Linked DNA regions of Homo sapiens: regions 1, 2 and 3 are each linked to region 4. The links come from fine-mapping of genetic effects on gene expression. A gene starts in region 4. Each other region holds a variant in brackets. All regions are shown on one strand. Distances are from middle to middle. Region 1 overlaps MRPL58 (mitochondrial ribosomal protein L58). Region 2 holds the start of TRR-CCT1-1 (tRNA-Arg (anticodon CCT) 1-1). Region 3 overlaps KCTD2 (potassium channel tetramerization domain containing 2). Region 4 holds the start of CDR2L (cerebellar degeneration related protein 2 like).

Region 1 (5,000 bases), 31 kb before region 4:
TAGCCCCAGATGCCCAATCAGTGCTTTTCAAAGTGGTGAGAGGAGTTGGGAGCTCAACGGGAAGCCGAGCAGTTACACCAGCAGGCACTAGCCCGCAGGCCTCGGTCCCAGGTCAGCATCCTCTCCTCTTCCTAGAGTTTCTCCCAAGGCCGGCCTTGGACTCTCCCCTGCCCCTTCCTTACCTGTGTAGACTCTTGTCCACACAAATCAGTTTATAGCATCTTAGGGCATTTCCTGGTACCTGATTCTATGAAGTTTAACATCTTCTTTTGTTGGCTCCTTCGGTGTCTGGCTGGCCTCAGTGATCATGTCTCGAATTTTCTGCAGGCAATCTGCCAGATTCCGGAACTGATAGCGGCTGCTCTCAGAGGTGAGGATCAACTCTCCTAACCTGTTGATCTTGTTTTTATGCTGCAGAGAACAAATGAAAAACTGGAGTCCTACAGAGTAAAGGTTTAAAAGCCACTGAGGGATTTCTAGGGAAAGAAAGGGATGGTGGTTACCGTGATGGCTATCTTCTGCCGCACGGGCTCCGCGATCCACTCGGCAGTTGCCAAATGGAACCTGACTTCTGCCTTGGAATTCACTGTGGAGGAAAGGGAGAAGGGAGCATGGGTGCCTGAGACTTCCAGGAAGGATCAACCCCTGGGTGACCAGTGACCATTCTGAAATAAAGGGAGGCCAGACACCTAACCATGTACATTGTAGCCTATGTCCAAGTTGGCTATGAACAAGCCCGCAAAGACAGTGAGGCACTTTTGGGCAAAAATAGACTTCCAGTAACTAAGCACCCAGTCCTTCTCTTACAGTTTTACTGGGTTCAAAAAAAAAAAAAAAAAAAATGGAGGGAATGGGTTGCACCAGAATGAAAGAAACCTGTTCTTGGAGCTGGCTGCCACCTCACAACTGTGATTTCTCTTTGTTTAGACTCACAAGCCGATCCTAGTCCTAGCAACCCACAGCTGAATGTCTGAGAATCAGACCACATTCAAAAGAATAAAGAGGATTATTATAAGCTGGCAGTATTAAAGCTTCTGCTGAAAAATCCCTTTATTCCATATGAACACAAACACAGAGCTCCTCAAGCCCATCTCCCAGCTACATTTTAAAGCAAAAGAAAGCAACAAGGCACCCCGTACCTTTGTTCACATTCTGCCCCCCAGGACCACTACTCCGACAATAAGATATTGTCAAGCGATCTGTAAAACAGAAGAAAGTACACACACAAAACTGATTACCTCATGGCATGAAAAGCAGTCTTGTTGTGTCTGAGGAATGTAGGGAAGGTATTATATTGGGAAAATTTCAAAAACTGCAAGAAGTTTGGGTGGCAAGGAACTGTGGCACCACGGTGGCAGAGAGCTGGTCCCAGTGAGCAGTAGTGACTCATCTTGGGACTGCTTTTAAGAGGATTTCCTCCTTTGGAAAAATCAAATTAAATCCACTTTCTGACTAGGTAACAAGTACACGTGCCACTGCAGGGGAACAGTTCTGCCATGGTGATTGCTGGCAACCTTGCACATGGCCAAAGCTTGAGCTGCAGCTGACCAAAGTCTTCATAGGAATGGAACGCTTCGGGATCCATGAGAGTGTGGGAGGCTGGTGAGGAGCTACTACCGAGCTACTGCCCACTTGCCTGCCTGTCTCCCCCTAGGAGGCTGTCACAAGACACTTCTCTTCGCCTCCAGTTCTGATGAGATAGGAGGCTTTCTGCCTCCTCCCCTACACACATGCACCCCTTAGGGCACAGCTTCATTTTTTTTTTTTTTGAGACAGGGTCTCACTCTGGCACCCAGGCTGGAGTCCAGTGGCACAATGACGGCTCACTGCAGCCTCAACATCCCAGGCTGAAGCGAACATCCCGGGCTCAAGGGATCCTTCCACCTCAGCCTCTCAAGTAGCTGAGACTACAGGCGGGCACAGCTTCAAGCTACAAAACTGCTTCACTGCAGCATGGTATTCGCTCCTCAGCCACAGGGTGTCCTGTCCCTTGGGTTGTGGTCATCTGGCCTCTGTTTGAGTCATCTTGAGCAAGGGCCACAGGGAGCCAGCA[T/C]CTTTGGCTGCTCTTCCTCGCACTGTCTATGGAAGTCATACACTCTCCGAATCTAAAAAAGGCTCATTGTTTCTTTACAGGCTGTAACTGTTAGGCCTTGCTTATGCTTGACAGGTAAAAAATTTTACAGTTATGTAAATGGTTTATTTACATGGAAATGTCTTTCACTCTTGTCTCTCAGCCACCAAGTTTGTCTTATCTCTCTATTCCTCCAGGCAGTCACTGTATCCAGGGTGTTCCTTTCAGATATAGATATCTCTCTACACAGATAGGGATATAAATATAGATACAGATATTCAGAAATAGATATTTCAGGCTGGGCACGGTGGCTCACACCTGTAATCCCAGCACTTTGGGAGGCTGAGGTGTGCAGATCATGAGGTCAGGAGATCGAGACCATCCTGGCTAACATGGTGAAACCCCGTCTCTACTAAAAAATACAAAAAATTAGCCGGGCGTGGTGGTGGGAACCTGTAGTCCCAGCTACTCGGGAGGCTGAGGCAGGAGAATGGTGTGAACCTGGGAGGCGGAACTTGCAGTGAGCCGAGATCGGGCCACTGCACTCCAGCCTGGGTGACAGAGCGAGACTCCATCTCAAAGAAAAAAAAAAAAGATATTTCAGAGATATAGATATGTAAAAAACAAATGGTAGCTTATAAACTCTCCTGTGTCTTCCTCTTTCAATTCATCTATTGTAAAGAGTGCTCCACGTCATGAGAATGTCAAGAGCTCTACACTCACGTGGCACACGGCACAGTACGATGCGACTGGCCACACCATCATTTATTTGCTATTCTAAATAATGCTGCAAAGATTCTACTTCTGCACACCCGAGATAGTCTCTTTACTTTAATTGGGCTGGAGAGATCTGGAAGGAATGTGTGAAGGATTAGAGAAATGACTGATTTTTTTTTTTTCGTCTGAGACAGAGTCTCGCTGTGTCGCCCAGGCTGGAGTGCAGTGGTGCGATCTCAACTCACCACAACCTCTGCTTCCCAGGCTCAAGTGATTCTTGTGCCTCAGCCTTCCGAGTAGCTGGGATCACAGGCGCCCACCACCACACCCGGCTAATTTTTGTATTTTTATTTATTTATTTTTGAGACAGAGTCTTACTCTGTTGCCCAGGCTGGAGTGCAATGGCAGGATCTCAGCTCACTGCAACCTCTGCCTTCCGGGTTCAAGCAATTCTTCTGCCTCAGCCTCCCAAGTAGCTGGGATTACAGGCCCTCGCCACCACACCCGGCTAATTTTGTATTTTTAGTAGAGATGGGGCTTTGCCATGTTGGCCAGGCTAGTCTTGAACTCCTGACCTCGGATGATCCAGCTGCCTTGGCCTCCCAAAATGTTGGAATTATAGGCGTGAGCCACTGCGCCTGGCCTAATTTTTGTATTTTTAGTAGAGATGGGGTTTCACCATGTTGGCCATGCTGGTCTCAAACTCCTGGCCTCAAGTGATCTACCCACCTTGGCCTCCCATATTGTTGGGATTACAGGTATGAGACACCATGCCCGGCCAACAGGCATGATTTTTTTTTTTTAATTTTTAATTTTTTCCAGATAGAGTTTTGCTCTCGTTGCCCAGGCTGGAGTGCAATGGCACAAACTCGGCCCACTGCAACCTCCACCTCCTGGGTTCAAGCGATTCTCCTGCCTCAGCCTCCCAAGTAACTGGGATTACAGGCACATGCCACCACGCAGCCAACTGATTTTTAAGAAAACAAAATTACTTACCTAGAGGGATGTCACTGTCGGCTTGCTTTGCACCATTCTGTAATGTAATGTACACAGTGTCAAATAAATATTACCTGCTGGGTGACTCCTAACTGGTTCAAGGCAACAAAGAAATGATGTAAAGCCACAACACAAACATTGTACATTAGTATTTTCAGGTCCCCTGCAAAATGATATCACGATGACAGAAAAAGCATCCTCAGACTCCAGAGGTACCACCTCAGAAACACTCCTCTACGAAAATGGATCTGATGTCTCCAGCCTTCCCTGCCCTAGCCTTAGCTAGTGTCAGGCACCATCAGAGGCCTGGCTCCAGCGGGAGGGGGAGCCACAGTGCACATGCATCAGGGAACCTCCAAAAGCAACACCCTCTGTCAACCTGGAGCAACAAGCCTGGTGGGCCACCCTGTTCTTTCCGGGGCCACAGGAGACTCCCACACAAGGCAGTCCACCTTGGACAGTGACTATAATTGCACCCTGAGGGTTTCTGTCAAACTAACTACTCACTCCAGGACTTCTCACCTCCATGTCTCTCTCTCTCTTGCTGTTCCTCAAGCAGCAACGCCCTTCAGCCTTAAATCTTTGTATCCACAAGGCCCAGTGCAAACGCCACCCACTCCGAGGCTTTTCTGGCCCTCCAGGCTCAAAGCATCAGTATCCTCAGGTGCACTCCCGACTGCCTTCATTTCTTTTTTTTTTGAGATGGAGTCTCGCTCTGTAGCCCAGGCTGGAGTACAATAGTGCGATCTCAGCTCACTGCAACCTCCGCCTCTTGGGTTCAAGTGATTCTCCTGCCTCAGCCTCCTGAGTAGCTGGGATTACAGGCGCATGCCACCATGCCTAGCTATTGTTGTTTTTTTTTTTTGTATTTTTAGTAGAGATGGGGTTTCACCATGTTGGCCAGACTGGTTTCGAGCTCCTGACCTCAAGAGAGCTGCCCGCCTTGGCCTCCCAAAGTGCTAAGATTACAGGCGTGAGCCACCACGCCCAGCCTGTCTTCATTTCTTTTATCTTAGAATTATTTGGGAGTTGGCCGGGTGCAGTGGCTCACGCCGTAATCCCAGCACTTTGGGAGGCCGAGACGGGTGGATCACTTCAAGTCAGGAGTTGGAGACCAGCCTGGACAACATGGTGAAACCTCCCCTCTACTAAAAATACAAAATTAGCTAGGCATGGTGGCACACACCTGTAATCCTAGCTACTGGGGGAGGCTGAG
Region 2 (5,367 bases), 48 kb before region 4:
GTGGGACGATCTCGGCTCACTGCAACCTTTACCTCATGGGTTCATGCCATTCTCCTGCCTTAGCCTCCTGAGTAGCTCGGACTACAGGTGCCCGCCATCACGCCCGGCTAATTTGTTTTATTTTTAGTAGAGACGGGGTTTCACCATGTTAGCCAGGATGGTCTCGATCTCCTGACCTTGTGATCCGCCCGCCTCAGCCTCCCAAAGTGCTGGGATTACAGGCGTGGGCCACTGCATCCAGCCTGAACATGGAGAATTATTTTAACTTAATTTTTAAAATCCCCACTATTTACTATGGTTAGCAGACCTGAGCAACGTCAGGCAATAGAGATGGTTTAAAGCAAGGTAGTAGATCATAGAGTAATGCAAGTATTTAAAGAAAAAAGTATGGTGGTAGAAAGAATTGTCCTTAAAGTCAGAGGACCTGTTATGCCTACAACCCAATTGCTGATTTTAGATTGTTTACTGTCTTGAGAATTTAATTTTCTCATTTACAAATATCAGGATTGTAATGAGAATTAAATGAGATAACCTGGGAAGTTTCTAGGTAAGAAAGTAAGCAAAGGCTGACTTGATGTGGCTTAAATCCTGTAGGAAAAGTCTGCATGGTCTACGCAGGGGAGACTTGTGACATTTCTGCCATTTCTTTTTTTTTTTTTTTTTTTCTGATATGGAATCTTGCTTTGTCGCCCAGGCTGGAGTGCAGTGGCACGATTTCTGCTCATTGCAACCTTTGCCTCCCGGGTTCACACCATTCTCCTGCCTCAGCCTCCAGAGTAGCTGGGAGTACAGGCGCCCGCCACCACGCCCCGCTCATTTTTTGTATTTTTAGTAGAGACGGGGTTTCATCGTGTTAGGCAGGACGGTCTCGATCTCCTGACCTCGTGATCTGCCCGCCTTGGCCTCCCAAAGTGCTGGGGTTTCAGGCGTGAGCCACCGCACCTGGCCCATTTTTGCAGGCGGAGTATATTGGAGAAGAGCAACAATGCCTGACAACCCTCGAGAAATCAGCGTAGTCTTAACATAAGCAGAGGAGAGCCTGGGTGCATGGCTCCTGATTGGTAGGAGTAAGGCCGGGTTGAAGATGAAAGGCAGCGGAGGGGCGGAGTCTACTCCCCCCAAAACTGCTTGAGTCAACAAGAAGACTGGGCAGAGATGAGGAGCGGTAGCTGTGCAAGGCCTTTAATGTGCGTAACAGAAGTACCACACCCTTCCCCTGCGAGACTGCAGTCACTGAACTGGCACTCAGCCATCCCGCTGAGGATCTGAGGATGCAGACGACAGCCAAGTGAAAGCGCAGGGATGTGAGAAAAAATGCAGTTTACTTGGAGCATAGTTAGAGCTCGCGCTGTTCAAGGAGAGCACCGCTGAGCCCCGTGAAGGTGTTGGGATGTGAAGGGGGCAACCCCAGCATTAGGGGGAGCCCTTTGGGAGATTCCCTGTGCTAAATAACAGTGAACAAACAACTGGGAACAGGCTCAGCTAAAGGCACGTGGGTGGGAAGGGGGTACTTTTATTTTTTATGCCCTCTTGGATTGTTCAGCATTTTTGCGTTGTACATGCATTAATTTTACATTAAAAAGGTAATTGGGCAGGGCGCGGTGGCTCACGCCTGTAATCACAACACTTCGGGAGGCCGAGGTGAGCGGATCACTAGGTCAGGAAATTGAGACCATCCTGGCTAACACGGTGAAACCCCGTCTATACTAAAAATACAAAAAATTAGCCAGTGTGGTGGCGGGCGCCTGTAGCCCCAGCTTGTTTGTCTGCTGCAGACAAAACTCCATTCCCTGGCCGGGCCCAGTGGCTCACGCCTGTAATCTCAACACTTTGGGAGGATGAGGCAGGAGAATGGCGTGAACCCAGGAGGTGGAGCTTGAAGTGAGCCGAGATCACGCTACTGCACTCCACCCTGGGTGACAGAGCGAGACTCCGTCTCAGGGAAGAAGAAAAAGAAAAAAAAAATTAGCATTTATTCTCCCCTATGTCCAAGTACACTTGCACACACATGCATCCTGACACCCTCTTCCTCCAAGCACAGAGTAGTGGGGTGGTGGGTGCCGTGTGAGTGTGGACAGAGCCCACTAGCAGGACTGAGGCCACAGAGTTGGGCAGCACCCCCACTGCCCTTGAGGCTAGGGACTGGAGTTTTTTGTTTGTTTGTTTGTTTGTTTGTTTTGAGACGGCTTTCGCTCTGTTGCCCAGGCTGGAGTGCAGTGGCGCGATCACGGCTCACTGCAACCTCGGCCTCCTGGATTCAAGCGATTCTCCTGCTGCCTCCGCCTCCTGAGTAGCTGGGTTTACAGGCGCGTGCCACCACGATTGGCCGGCTAATTTTTGTATTTTTGTATTTTTAGTAGAGACGGGGTTTCACCATGTTGGTCAGGCGGGTCTCGAACTTTGACCTCGTGATCCGCCCGCCTCAGCCTCCCAAAGTGTTGGGATTACAGGCGTGAGCCATTGGGCCCGGCCAGAGACTGGAGTTTTGTCTGCTGTTTAACTTCATAACGATAGACTGAAACATAACCCGCTCCGTGTCATTTGCTTGTGGGATTGTAGCTTGTAGAGCACGTTTACGAGGCGAATGTTTGGATGTTGAACTCGTTCCAGGTACCAGCTCAAGAGAGACAACAAGAAATGGGGCCCTACTTACCCTGGCTGCATAATGACGCCATAACCGGAAGCGTCCCGGGATGCAAAGCCTGATTGGACAGAAGCAGCTCCCCAGCTTCGGATCCCGGGAGCCGCGGTGTGGAGGGATTGGGAGGCGTTTCTGGGTCTAAAACAAGGGAGGGAAGATTATAGTTGCAGGGATTAAAAC[G/A]TTCCGACCACGAAGGGACTCGAACCCTCAATCTTCTGATCCGAAGTCAGACGCCTTATCCATTAGGCCACGCGGTCTCCGGCTGCAGCTACCTCCTAGAGAGGCCAATTTGATGGCCATTAAACGCTCCGGCGTGCCGCAGCTTCACTGCTCGCACCCTGGCCGCCTGTTGAGCGAAGCGCTCACCCTTCCTCTGGCCCCAGCCGCCCGCCTAGTCACCCCCGAGCGGAGCGGCACCTGGACTAGTCTCTGAGCCTCCCTGGGAATTGCGACCGCGTGGCCTAAGGGATGAGGCGTCTGACGTCAGATCATAAGATTGAGGGTTCCTTTGTGGTCGGGCTCTTTTGGAGCGAGCAGCCCTTGCCCGAATCCCAGCATAGTTTGAGGGTTTGTTCTTCCCTCCGCCCTCGTCCATCCCTATTCCTCCCAGCTATGCTCCACCGGCCTCTGCGCTCGCCGAGCACTTCTTCTCGGGGTTACAGGGCACCGCGGGCTCCTGGTCCCCGCGCGTCGTCACCGCATGGAGCTCTTGTGTAGCCCGGTGGGGACGCCGCGCCCAGCCAGCGGTTCATCCTGTCGTCCCCATGGCTTCTCAGGCTTGGAGCGCGGTGACCCACAGCAGGGCCGTGTTTGGGCACTATGGTTGAACACCTATCAAGGAGCACGTGGGTTTAGCGTCTTACCGCGCCCCAGTGGCCTAATGGATAAGGCACTGGCCTCCTAAGCCAGGGATTGTGGGTTCGAGTCCCACCTGGGGTGTCGAGAGGGGCTGTGCTCGCAAGGTTTCTTTTGGTGCCGGCAGCCAGAGACCTCAGAATCCACCACCACCTGCCCGCTACCTGCTTGCCTCTGCCCTGTTTGCGCCCCTCGCCTTCTCTTGCAGGACCCTCTGTTTGCAGTCGCGGTGGTCATTTACCTCTGGTTCTCCGGGGCTGCCCCGCCAGGTGGAGCTGGGGTGTCCTGGGAACCCTTTGGGCAACTTTATTCTTACGAGTTTCCCCAGCTTCGAAATTGTGGGGCCCTACCCGGACGAAAGCTGTTCATTCAAGGGCTTGGCAAGACCCGAGCTTACCGGCTTTAGGCGCTTGGAGGAGGTGGCTCCTCCTCAACACGTTGCACGGGAGTCGAACTAGAGACCAAGGTCGATTCCAGCATCCCTGAGAAGGGAAGAGAAAAGAAATAAAAAATTCCGTAAAAGGAACTTTCACCTCTACCCCAGGTGGGACTCGAACCCACAATCCCTGGCTTAGGAGGCCAGTGCCTTATCCATTAGGCCACTGGGGCTTGGGGCACGTGGCCGTGCCATCCCTTCCCCTCATAAGCGAGTGTCCCCTTTTCCTAGAGAAGGCCTGACAGAGGCGCGATCCATGGAGTGGGTCCGTCCCTGCCGCGCGCACTTTTGGTGAGCGGGCGGGAAGATACCGCGGTGCGCAGGGACCTGCCCCCATCCTTACTTAGCGAGCACCAGCCCCCAGCCCCCGGCACTGGGACGCCCCATGGAGCCCCGAGGGTCCGCTTGGTGGTTGCCTGGACACCCGGACCATGGGGTATGAAGACTGAGGTTTGGAGGAGTTTCCTTCCTACCGCCCTGAGCCTTGCTGTCCGCCTCTACAGAACTGATAAAAAATCCAGGAATTTTAGGAAAAAGTAGCGTAGGAAGTGAAGGAGAACAGACAAGTATTAATCATGAATATTGAAACATAAACACTGAAAATCTTGCTTATCATGAGGGAATGTACAACCAGGGGGAACAAGTTCTTCCAGTTGTAATAGTAGAAATATATATATACTAGATACTACAAGTATAGATAGAAAGGAAAATCAGCCAAGTAGATATTTCACCCTAATTCTAACAAAGAATAAGCACATTTTAAAATGTTACACACATTTAAAATCCATTATTAAAGGCTACAGACCGGGTGCGGTGGCTCACGCCTGTAATCCCAGCATCCCAGCACTTTGGGAGGGTGAGGTGGGGGGATTGCTTGAGCCCAGGAGTTCAAAACCAGCCTGGGCAACATAGCGAGATGCAGTCTCATTTGAAAAAAAGAAAAAAAAGAAAAAAAATTATTAAATAAAAGTCTACTCACATCCGAAGGATTTAACAGAAGAAGTTCAGCCAAGGGCAGCGTCGGTTACCATTGTGCTTCTCTTGGGACCTTGCCAATCTGCCCCAGCATCGCAGGGCAAAGGAGACTTGGGGACATTCTTTTCTGTTTCTCTCCAAAATGTAGAGTCTGCAGAAACCTGTCTCCTCCCCTTAATAGCAGCAAGAAGGATTTAACCCACTTGGCTCCAGTTTACTGCCTTGAGGATGCCCCCCTTTAAGTTAACTAACTTGTCCGTTGCTGGGATCCAGCACTCTGCCCCAGGGCCAACCTGCAGGGATGCCTTCTCTGCTTTCCTGCTGCCGCCCTCTAGCTAGGCATGTTCCCCCAACCCGCCCGCCCGGGGCTCAGCCTTGCCTTGCTCAGCTGTTCCTATTCGTCCCCAGGGTCCTCTTGTCTCCCTGGGTCTTGGATCTTACAGCTCTAACCTCACTCCCA
Region 3 (5,367 bases), 66 kb before region 4:
ATACCTGGCCTAGAGCCAGAAAACTTTGATATATGAAATCTAACATAGAAAGACCAAGGCATTATTTTTTACTTTTAAAAGTAAACTTATGCCAGGCATGGTGCCTCATGCCTGTAATCCCAGCACTTTGGGAGGCTGAGGCAAGTGGATCACTTGAGGCCTGAAGTTCAAGACCAGCCTGGTCAATATGGCGAAACACCATCTCTACTAAAAATACAAAAATTAGCCAGGCATTGTGGCACACACCTGTAATCACAGCTACTCAGGTGGCTGAGACATGAGAATCGCTTGAACCTGGGAGGCAGAGGTTGCAGTAAGCCGAGATCATGCCACTGCACTCCTGCCTGGGTGACAGAGGAAAACTCTGCCTCAAAAAAAGAAGAAAAAAGAATAATTTTCCTGCCTTCTTAATGGCAGGAAAATTCTGTGCTGCAATAGATTATACCTAAAGCATCTACTACCAGTATCTGATGGGAAAAGAGGCAATTATGCTACAACACAGGTAGTCATGGTGGAGCACGACTCTGCCTTCTTACTGTTAACTCTGTAGTTGCAGTTTCTTAAAACAGTCTAATCGCATGAAAGAGAGGGTCTATTTTCCTGGCTATACTTCAAGCTTCTTTTTTTTTTTTTTGAGATGGAGTCTCCCTCTGTCGCCCAGGCTGGAGTGGTGCAGTGGTGCGATCTTGGCTCACTACAAGCTCCGCCTCCTGGGTTCACACCATTCTCCTGCTTCAGCCTCCCGAGCAGCTGGGACTACAGGCACCCATCACCATGCCTGGCTAATTTTTTTTGTATTTTTAGTAGAGACGGGGTTTCACCGTGTTAGCCAGGATGGTCTCGATCTCCTGACCTCATGATCTGCCCGTCTCGGCCTCCCAAAGTGCTGGGATTACAGGCGTGAGCCACCGCGCCCGGCCGACTTCAAGCTTCTTGAGGGCAAGGACTTTCAATTACTTACAGAATCCCAAGGGCCAAATAGAAGCTATTATGGCCATTCAAACACACGACAAACATATGACGAATGGCAGGATGTGAAATAGATGTGCCGTAACATCTTTCTTTCCTCTAACTAGGTGGGCAAATTCCCTTTCGCTCTTGTTACTGTATCTGAGTTAATATCAAAATCAAGGCCAGGTGCGGTAGCTCACACCTGTAATTCCAGAACTTTGGGAGGATGAGGTGGGCGGGTTGCTTGAGTTCAGGAGTTTGAGACCAGCCTGGCCAACAAGGCTCGTTTCTACCCAAAATACAAAAAATTAGCCAGGTGTGGTAGCTTGCAGCTGTAGTCCCAGCTACTCGGTAGGCTGAGGTAGGAAAATCACCTGAGCCTGGGAAGCCAAGGCTGCAGTGAGCTGTGATCACGCCACTGCACTCCAACCTGGGCAACGGGAGTGAGACCTTGTCCTCCCTCTCCCCGCCAAAATCAAGACACCATCATAAAGAGCAGCTTGATATTATGTTCTTAGAAGCATGGTTCAGGCTGGGTGTGGTGGCTCACTCCTGTAATCCTAGCACTTTGGGAGGCCAGCCTGGGGGAGAGAGTGAGACTCTGTCTCAAAAAAAAAAAAAAAAAAAAAAAAAAGCATGGTTCACAAGCAGCTGCTGAAGCGTACCCCATGAGACTGGTTTCAAGTGGCTCACAGGAGCTGCATGTGACTCGATCACATGCTAAAGGCTCATCTCCATAAAGAGTGGCCAAGCTGGGCGCAGTGCCTCACGCCTGTAATCCCAGCACTTTGGGAGGCTGAGGCGGGCAGATCACCTGAGGTCGGGAGTTCGAGACCAGCCTGACCAACATGGTGAAACCCCATCTCTACTAAAAAAATACAAAAATTAGTCAGGCGTGGTGGCACACACCTGTAGTCCCAGCTACACGGGAGGCTGAGGCAGGAGAATTACTTGAACCTGGGAGGCAGAGGTTGCAGTGAGCCGAGATTGCACCACTGCACTCCGGCCTGGGCGACAGGGCGAGACTCCATCTCATAAAAAAAAAAAGAGCGGCCAACGGGTGCAACCAAGACCTCTATGGTCTTTAGGAGGGAGACATACTCGGGCAGAGAACAGGTTTTAGACCTAAAGTGCCCTGGGCGCCTCCTCC[C/T]GCCATCTGGTAAGCAGCGACAATCTTCTCATTCTATTGGGACATAGGCCTATTCTGTTTTCTTTGTGGTTTCTTCTTTTCTCCTGTGCAGTTTGGCTGAGTGTGCATTCCCTGCACTGCAAACGGTGTTCCACACACACCTCCAGCTCTAAGGGTAAAGGCATCCTTTTCAAATCACAGACCGACCGACAGAAGCCCACTTGAAACAACCCTCCTTAACAGTTCCAAATACATTACTTGTGAAGTTCTGTTCTCATTGTCCCGTATCCTTTCCTTAACCAGCCGCACAAGGGACGCGATGTTGTAAAACTCCGCTTCCTCCAGCACACCTGGAACAAGGACAAAACTGCAGTCAGATAGGTGCGAGGGTTTGCCAGAAAAACACCAAGGAGAGGATGAAGGTTACATGCTTGCTAAAAACTGCTTATTTATTTATTTACTTATTTTTTGAGACGGAGTCTTACTCTGTCGCCCAGGCTGGAGTTCAGTGGTGCGATCTTGGCTCACGGCAACCTCCGCCTCCTGCGTTCAAATGATTCTCTTGCCTCAGTCTCCCAAGTAGCTGGGACTACAGGCACATACCACCACACCCGGCTGTTTCTATTTTTTCCCCCCGCCCGAAACAGAGTTTCATTCTTGTTGCCCAGGTTGGAGTGCAATGGCATGATCTTGGCTCACTGCAAACTCCGCCTGCTGGGTTCAAGAGATTCTGCTGCCTCAGCCTTCCAAGTAGCTGGGATTACAGGCGCTTGCCACCACGCCTGGCTAATTTTTTGTATTTTTAGTAGAGACAGGGTTTCATCATGTTGGTCAGGCTGGTCTTGAACTCCTGACCTCAGGTGATCCATCTGCCTTGGCCTCCCAAAGTTCTGGGATTACAGGCGTAAAGCCACCGCACCCAGCCAATTTTTGTATTTTTCGCAGAGACGGGGTTTTGCCATGTTGGCCAGGCTGGTCTCAAACTCCTAACCTCAAGTGATCCGCCCACCTTGGCCTTCCAAGTGTTGGGATTACAGGCATGAGCCACAGCTCCTGGCCTAAAAACTGCATTATTTAAATGCAAATCCAATCTCTCTCCTTCTGCTAGGAAATATCTCTTTGCTATTTTCGGTAAACCCATGACCTTTTCTCCAACATAAATTAGTCAAACGCCAGGGTATGTTCTGCTCACTCCATTTCAACCCTCCTTTCCCTACCTGGCACCTGCCCATTAGCTGCAGGACACTTTTCCCATATGTCACTTAGTTCCTGGAACTAGTCATGTTGGACACCTCCTGAACTTGATATTTTTGTCCAATCTGCCCTCAAAAGGACTGGGGGTGGGGGTGGAGGTGTGTGTACAAATTTATGTGGGCCAAACTTAATAGGATGCTAATCATTTGAACAATATAAAAGGCAACCATTTAAAGACTTGCATGCTAAATGAACTCAAAGGCCTTAGGGCAACTATGAGACGTGTGATCCTATAGGAATAAATTTGCTATAAAGGCCATTATTAGGACAACTGACAAAACTGCAATATAAGCTGTAGATAAAAGCATCAGTATTAAATTTCCTGAGTTTGATAACTGTACTGTCTGTGGTTACATAAAACAGTATCCTTGTTCTTGGGAAATATATACAAATATTAAGGGGTGAAATCTGCAATCTATTCTCAAATAGTTCAGAAATAACTGTGGTGGGAGAGGCAAGAGGATGGGGGTAGGGAGGGGGAAATAGAGAATGAAGGACAATGCAAATATGATTTAAAAAAAAAAAAGGTCGGGCATGGTGGCTCACGCCTGTAATCGCAGCATTTCGGGAGGCCAAGGCGGGTGGATCACGAGGTCAGGAGTTCAAGACCAGCCTGACCAACATGGTGAAACCCCCGTCTCTACCAAAAATAAAAAAATTAGCCAGGCGTGGTGGCATGCACCTGTAATCCCAGGTACTCAGGAGGCTGAGGCAGGAAAATCGCTTGAACCCGGGAGGTGGATGTCGCAGTGAGCTGTGATAGTGCCATTGCACTCCAGCCTGGGCAACAGAGGGAGACTCTGTCGCCAAAAAAAAAAAAAAAAAAAAAAAAGGTCGGGCGCGGTGGCTCATGTCTGTAATCCCAGTACTTTGGGAGGCTGAGGCAGGCAGATCACAAGGTCAGGAGATCGAGATGAGACCATCCTGGCTAATATGGTGAAACCCTGTCTCTACTAAAAATACAAAAAATTAACTGGGTGTGGTGGTGGGCGCCTATAGTCCCAGCTACTCGGGAGGCTGAGGCAGGAGAATGACGTGAACCTGGGAGGTGGAGCTTGCAGTGAGCCGAGATTGCGCCACTGCACTCCAGCCTGGGCAACAGAGCAAGACTCCGTCTCAAAAAAAAAAAAAAAGCTGGGCATGATGGCTCATGCCTATAATCGCAGCTACTCAGGAGGCTGAGGCAGGAGGAGCATGTGAGGCCAGACATTTGAGACCAGCCTGGGCAAGATAAGATAGACTCTGACTCTTAAAAAAACAACAAAAAGATCTCCCCATACCCCAAATATGACAAAAATAACATTGAAAATTGGTTAATCTGGGATATAGGGAGTTCTCTGTGTTATTCTTGCTCTTTTCTTGCTTATTTTGAAGTTTTAAATTACTTCAAAATAAAGTTTTTTTAATTAAAGGCATTAGAAAAGATACTTAACTAAAAGAGGGTAATTGAATTTTTGTATCACAAAGGATAAATGCTTGAGGGGATGGATACCCCATTCTCCATGATGTGCTTATTTCACACTGCATGCCTATATCCAAACATCTCAGGTCGGGCGCGGAGGCTCAGGCCTGTAATCCCAGCACTCTGGGAGGCTGAGGCAGGTGGATCACTTGAGGTTAGGAGTTCAAGACCAGCCTGGTCAACATGGTGAAACCCTGTCTCTACTAAAAATACAAAAAATTAGTCAAGCATGGTGGTGCACGCCTGTAATCCCAGCTACTTGGGAGGCTGAGGCAGGAGAATCGCTTGAACCCAGGAGGCTGAGGTTGCAGTGAGTCAAGATTGTGCCAGTGCACTCCAGCCTGAGCGAAGAAAAAAAAAAGAAAAATCTCATGTACCCCATAAATATATACACCTACTAGGTACTTACAAAAATTAAAAAAGAAAAATAAATAAGATTAAGATCACCCATGAGTTGGTAATTGTTGAAGCTGGATAGTGGATGCAAGGAATTCACTGTATGTACTATTCCCATTACTTCTGTATGCGTTTGAAATATTGTTTAAAAAGGGACATTTAAAAAAAGAGAGAG
Region 4 (5,367 bases):
GAATCACTTGAACCCGGGAGATGGAGGTTGCAGTGAGCTGAGATCGCACCATTACACTCCAACCTGGGTGACAGAGGGAGACTCTGTCTGAAAATAAATAAATAAATAAATAAAAAGAAAAAAGAAAAAAATACTGTGCCACCTACACTTAGTTACAAGCCTGCCTCCTTCACCTGCCAGGGTATACCTTCAGGGTCAGGGCTGTGACTATTCCTAGCTCCCAGGATGGTGTCTGGTACTTAAGGGGAGCCTAATAGGTGTTCATGGAAAAATTTACTGCCCAGGATGGGAGAGGGGGTTGTCACAATGTGTGGATGTGTGTGTGTGTGTGTGTGTGTGTGTGTGTGTGTGTTTGAGAGGAGCTGTATCTCATTTCAGCCAAGGAGGCTGAGGCCAGAGTCCAGGGCACAGACCATGGCAGGGCCTAGTCCAGCATCCCCAGTCCCACCCTGGTCCCCCTGAGGCTATGATTAACCCTTGTCCTCAGCACAAGGACAGAGCCTCATCTGCCAGCCAGTCTTGGCCATGTGGGGAAGTAGGTCAGGGGCTTCAGAATCCGGATAGCTGCTGCACATCAGGGCAAAGCCAGCCCTCTGGAGCCTTGTGGATGGAGACCAGGGTGTGGGCACACCACAGCAGGCCACAATGGCACAAACTGCAGCAGACTTATGTCCACACCCCCCAGCTTGCTGGAGGCCATGGGAAGGTCACTTCTCCCTGGACATGTTTCCTCGCCCCTTCCAGCTCTCACCATCCAAGAAGGAGGCATCTTAGGGGAGGAGAGGATAGAACTGACTCCACTCCAGCAGGCCTCCTCTTCCTTTCTGTCCCAACAGCCCCACCCCCCACTCCCAGTGATGTCATTTCGGCCACCTCATCACCAGCTTCTAACCCCCTTCCAGTCGCCCTTTCTGTCCTCAGATGGCAACTGGGGGCAGCGGAGATGTATCCCTCTTTATTCGGTCTCTCGCCTGGCACACTGGCCGGGATTCCCGAACCTGACCCCCTCCAAACCATGAGCCATTTGCAAGGGGACCGGGCAGGGGAGGGCTAAGCGACTCCTGACTCTCGAAGGCAGATGGGAGACTTGACTTTCTGCTTCTTCACCAGCAAAGACGCGGTACCACTTCTCCCTGAGTAGGAAGCGAGTTAGGGAAACTTTCTAGGAGTCTTAGAGCTCATAATTCCTGTCAGGGACGGGTGCTGCTGGATTTGGCGTGAGATAACTTCCCTCTACACACAAGCCACCCTCCCAGCAAAACATGACGAAGGAGCCGCCTCCCGGCCTCAGAAGACTCCTAGCTAGCGCTCAGGCCCCGTAACAATACCAGGGGCGGCCGAGCAGTTGCTGCCTCCAGGACGGGGTGGGCGAGCTGGATGACGGATGCCCGGTCGTCTGGGAAAATAGGAAGACCGCCCCCCGCCCCCCACTTTTGCAGGTCTCCGCCCGTCCGGTCCGCGTCTTCTCCGGCAGCGCCCCCTCTCTCCACGTCCCGGTTCTCCAGACGCGTCCCTCCTCCGAGTCGGGCGCGCCCGGTCCAGCCCAGCCCCTCCCGGGGTGATAGCGCCCAACAATGGAGAAGCGGACAGGGGTCACCGGGCGCTCCCCGCCTTCCTGTCCCGGTCGCCCCCGCGCTCACCCTGCTCCAGGTCCTGCTGGTCGTACCAGGACTCCTCTTCCTCCGCGGAGAAGTCCTCCATCCCGGCGGCTCTCCGCATGGCCCCGCGGGCGGCGGGCGGGTGCTGCGGCGGCGCAGCTCAGGGCCGGTGCGCGCGGCCCGGGACAATGCGGCTGAGGCGGGCCGGGCCTCCAGCGTCGGGAACTCGGGCTACAGAGCCCGCGCCGCGCCCCCTCGCCATCAACCGCTCGCCGGGAGCCCACGCGGGGCCTGGCGCTTTGCCAGGGTCCGGCCCGGCCGGGGTCCCGCAGAGCCGGGGGCACCGGGCTGCGGCGACACAAAGGGTGGAGTGGCAGGGACGGCGGGTGGGACAGTGGCAAGGAGGATCCGGGCCCGCAGGCGGGTCTGGGGCGCTAGGAGCGCGCGGGTGCCGTGGCGGGCGCCCCCTGCCCGGCTCGGGTCCGCGCTGCTCCTGGCCCGCCCGGCGACAACCGGAGCCGCCGCTGCATCTTGGCGGAGCCCGCCTGCAGCTTGCGGAGCTCGGCTCCGCGGGGTGGGGCCTGCCGCCGCCGACCAATCAGGAGATGTATGCAAAGCTGGAGGCGGGGCCGAGGGCGGGACCCTCCTGGTGTCTTGGTCTGGGAATTGCTTGATCAACCCTTTCGTCCTACTTCCCCCTACGACCTATTCAGTTTATGTCTCATGTCTAAAATTATGCTATTTTAGAAGTTGTCGTCTCTCCTAGATCTCCTGGAAGCAAGAATATTGTTTCTCTTTCACAGCTGGCTACTCACTTCCTAGAACAGGCTGCTCACCAGTCGGGCGCGATGCCTGACTCCTGTAATTCCAGCACCTTGGGAGGCCAAGGCGGGCAGATCGCCTGAGGTCAGGGGTTTCGAGACCAGCCTGGCCAACATGGCGAAACCCCGTCTCCATTAAAAATACAAAAATTAGCTGGGCATGGTGGCGCATGCCTACTCGGGAGGCTGAGGCAGGAGAATCGCTTGAACCCTGGAGGCAGAGGTTGCAGTGAGCCAAGATAGCGCCACTGCACTCCAGCCTGGGCGACAGAGGGAGACTCTGCCTCAAAAAACAAACAAACAAAAAACAAACAACATGCTGGTCATTGATACCTTCCATCGACATTCTTTGAATGAATGAATACTAATTTACAGTTGCCTTTGGGAACTGCGTGTTTAAGTGCTTGTGGCTAGAAACCACAGGCTGAAAGTGGCAAAGTTTGAGGGTGTGTTACCTGCATTCAAGGTTCTGTTTTCCTTTCCTTGGGACCCATATCCTATATCCAATTATACCCATTAAAACTATACACACTTGCATCTGTCCAAGCATTCTTTCCTTAGAAGAGTGTTCGGACTCAAGCATTCACGTAACTCATTTTTATTGGGACCCTAATGTGCTGGTGCCGTTGAGAATCTCTGAATAATGTTGTGATATACCCAACGAATGACTTGTATCCAGAATACAGAAAGAACATCTGCATAGTCATAAGAAAAAGGCACGCAACCCAGTAGAAAAGTGGGTAAAAGATTTGACCAGGTAATTCACAAAAAAGGATACACAAATAACTGAATAAATATGCAACAAGGTACTGAACTTCTTTAGCCATCAGAAAAATGCAAATGAAAACCACAATGAGGTATCACTACCCAATCACCAGAGTGGCTTTAGGGAAAAAAAAAAAAAAAAAAAAGGCCAGGCGTGGTGGTTCATGCCTATAATCCCAGAACTCTGGGGAGGCCGAGGTTGGGAGGATCACTTGAGCCTGGAGTTCAAGAGCAGCCTGGGCAACATAGCAAGATCCTATTTCTATAAAAAAATTTAAAAATAAAAATTAGGTGGGCATAATGACACACGGCTGTAGTCCCAGATACTTTGGGAGGCTGAGGTGGGAGAATTGCTTGAGTCTAGGAGGTTGAGGCTGTAGGGAGCTGTGGTCATGCCACTGCACTCCAGCCTGGGTGACAGAGCAAGATCCTGTCTCAAAAAAAAAAAAAAAAAAAAAAAAAAAAAGACAAAAAATACCTAGTATTGGCAAGAATGTTGAGCAACTGGAACTCTCTCACCCTGCTGGAGGGAATACATAGGACGACAACCACTTTAGAAAACTGCCCGGGCGTGGTGGCTCATGCCTGTAATTCCCAACGCTTTGGAAGGCCAAGGAGGGTGGATCGCTTGAGGTCAGGAGTTCAAGACCAGCCTGGGAAACATGGTGAAACCCTGTCTCTACTAAAAATACAAAATTAGCTGGGCATGGTGGCACATGCCTGTAGTCCTAGCTACTTGGGAGGCTGAGGCAGGAGAATTGCTTGAACCTGGGAGGCGGAAGTTGCAGTGAGCTGAGATTGCGCCACTGCACCCAGCCTGGGCGATAGAGCAAGACTGCGTCTTGGAAAAAAAAAAAAAAAAGACTGCTTGATAACCATGAAAGCTGAATAACGTAAGCTGTTGTAGGTTGTGTTCCCAGGCAGCTGATCCTGAGATGGAGATTAGCATGCAGGAAGTTGATTAGGGATATCAATCATATTGGATTAGAGGGAGAAAAAAGAAAGAAAGTTGACTAGGGAGTGCTCTCATGATCAACACCTGCAGGAAAGGGAGGGAAGCAGGGTTGGTGGGGGAGAAGCTGGGTTGGTATGTAGCCTCTGCAAAAGCCTCCTCTGATCCCTGAAGAACTTTGAATCCAGGGTGACCCTTCAAAGCTATTCCAGGTATCATTGGGGGAGGGGGCCTTTATATCCCCCACCCTTACATATCAACCAGTCATTGAATGACACAGGTCGTTCCTAGGAGGCATGTGTGACCTTGGCCAAATAAGTTCTTTTCAGCTGAGACTAGTTTGCACAGAGCCCTGGCAGCTGGGACTGCCAGCCAGGGGTCCTCCCAGCAGCTAAGGGAATAGGTCCTTTCGTTCTGAAAGAGTTGGGGATACATCACAGCAGCCACTATACATGCATACCCTATAACCCAGAAATTCTATTCCTATATATGTGCAAGAGAAATATGCACATACCTTATCCCAAAGACATGTACAAGAAAGTTCATAGCCACAGTATTCATAAGCGCCCACACTGGAAACAACACAAATGTCCATCAACAGTTGACGAAGAATATGTGGCATGTTCATGTAATGGAATGTTATATAGTACAAATACAATGATCTACTGTCATGGGCTTGGGCTAAAAAAAAAAAGTTGAGTGAAAGATGCCAGACACAAAGAGTAAATACCTGTATTTGTCTCTTATTGCTTCTGTAACAAATGACCCCAAATTTAATGGGCTTGAAACAACACAAATTTATTATTTTATAATTCTGTAGAAGTCTGACAAGGATCACTGGCTAAAGTCAAAGCATTGGTAGAAGCTGTGTTCCTTCTGGAGGTTCCAGGGGAGTATCTGTTTCCTTGTCTTTTGCACCTTCTAGAGGCCACCCCATAGTCCTTGGCTCATGGCCTCTTTGTCAATCTTCAAAGTCAGCAACAGAAGGTGGAGTCTTTTTCACATCCCATCACTCTTACCTTTTCCACCTCCCTCTTATAAAGGACTCTTCTGCTTAAACTGGGCACACTGAATAATACAGCATAATCTCCCTGTCTCAATGTCTTTAACTAAATCACATCTGCAAAGTCCCTTATGTTGGGCAAGGTAACATATTCAGAGATTCTGGGGGTTAGGATGTGGATATCTTTAGTGGTTATGATTCTATCACAGCACTGCATGATTCCATTTT

Evidence for each region. PIP is the estimated chance that this variant, and not a neighbour inherited with it, causes the effect. A credible set is the group of variants that fine-mapping cannot tell apart.
Region 1: its variant is the best candidate, but not a certain one, in a credible set for the expression of CDR2L in lung (GTEx, PIP 0.53).
Region 2: its variant is the best candidate, but not a certain one, in a credible set for the expression of CDR2L in unexposed skin (GTEx, PIP 0.50).
Region 3: its variant is the best candidate, but not a certain one, in a credible set for the expression of CDR2L in unexposed skin (GTEx, PIP 0.53).

Annotation. Positions count from the first base shown.
Region 1 is chr17:75,015,899-75,020,898 of GRCh38, reverse strand. It overlaps MRPL58 (mitochondrial ribosomal protein L58), which reads right to left. Exons shown (of 6, transcript NM_001545.3): 2 at 3,785-3,821; 3 at 1,140-1,199; 4 at 504-586; 5 at 242-411. Among named protein-coding and RNA genes, the nearest start is that of MRPL58, 5.7 kb to the right of the region's middle. RefSeq lists an enhancer at 1-1,071. The variant T/C (reference allele first, on the strand shown) is at 2,054.
Region 2 is chr17:75,032,644-75,038,010 of GRCh38, reverse strand. TRR-CCT1-1 (tRNA-Arg (anticodon CCT) 1-1) reads right to left here and starts at 4,105; the gene lies at 4,033-4,105. It overlaps TRR-CCT2-1 (tRNA-Arg (anticodon CCT) 2-1), which reads left to right and starts at 3,508; the gene lies at 3,508-3,580. TRR-TCG3-1 (tRNA-Arg (anticodon TCG) 3-1) reads right to left here and starts at 2,898; the gene lies at 2,826-2,898. It also overlaps a transcript of KCTD2 not described here. RefSeq lists silencers at 2,075-2,234, 2,726-2,855, 3,416-3,585 and enhancers at 3,226-3,295, 3,746-3,815, 3,846-3,925, 3,322-4,303. The variant G/A (reference allele first, on the strand shown) is at 2,822.
Region 3 is chr17:75,050,077-75,055,443 of GRCh38, reverse strand. KCTD2 (potassium channel tetramerization domain containing 2) reads right to left here. Exons shown (of 6, transcript NM_015353.3): 3 at 2,339-2,430. Among named protein-coding and RNA genes, the nearest start is that of KCTD2, 5.5 kb to the right of the region's middle. The variant C/T (reference allele first, on the strand shown) is at 2,102.
Region 4 is chr17:74,984,396-74,989,762 of GRCh38, reverse strand. CDR2L (cerebellar degeneration related protein 2 like) reads right to left here and starts at 2,131. Exons shown (of 5, transcript NM_014603.3): 1 at 1,641-2,131. The coding sequence starts at 1,719. LOC124904058 (a long non-coding RNA gene) reads right to left here. Exons shown (of 2, transcript XR_007065906.1): 2 at 4,914-5,367. RefSeq lists silencers at 2,036-2,125, 2,146-2,225 and an enhancer at 1,792-2,293.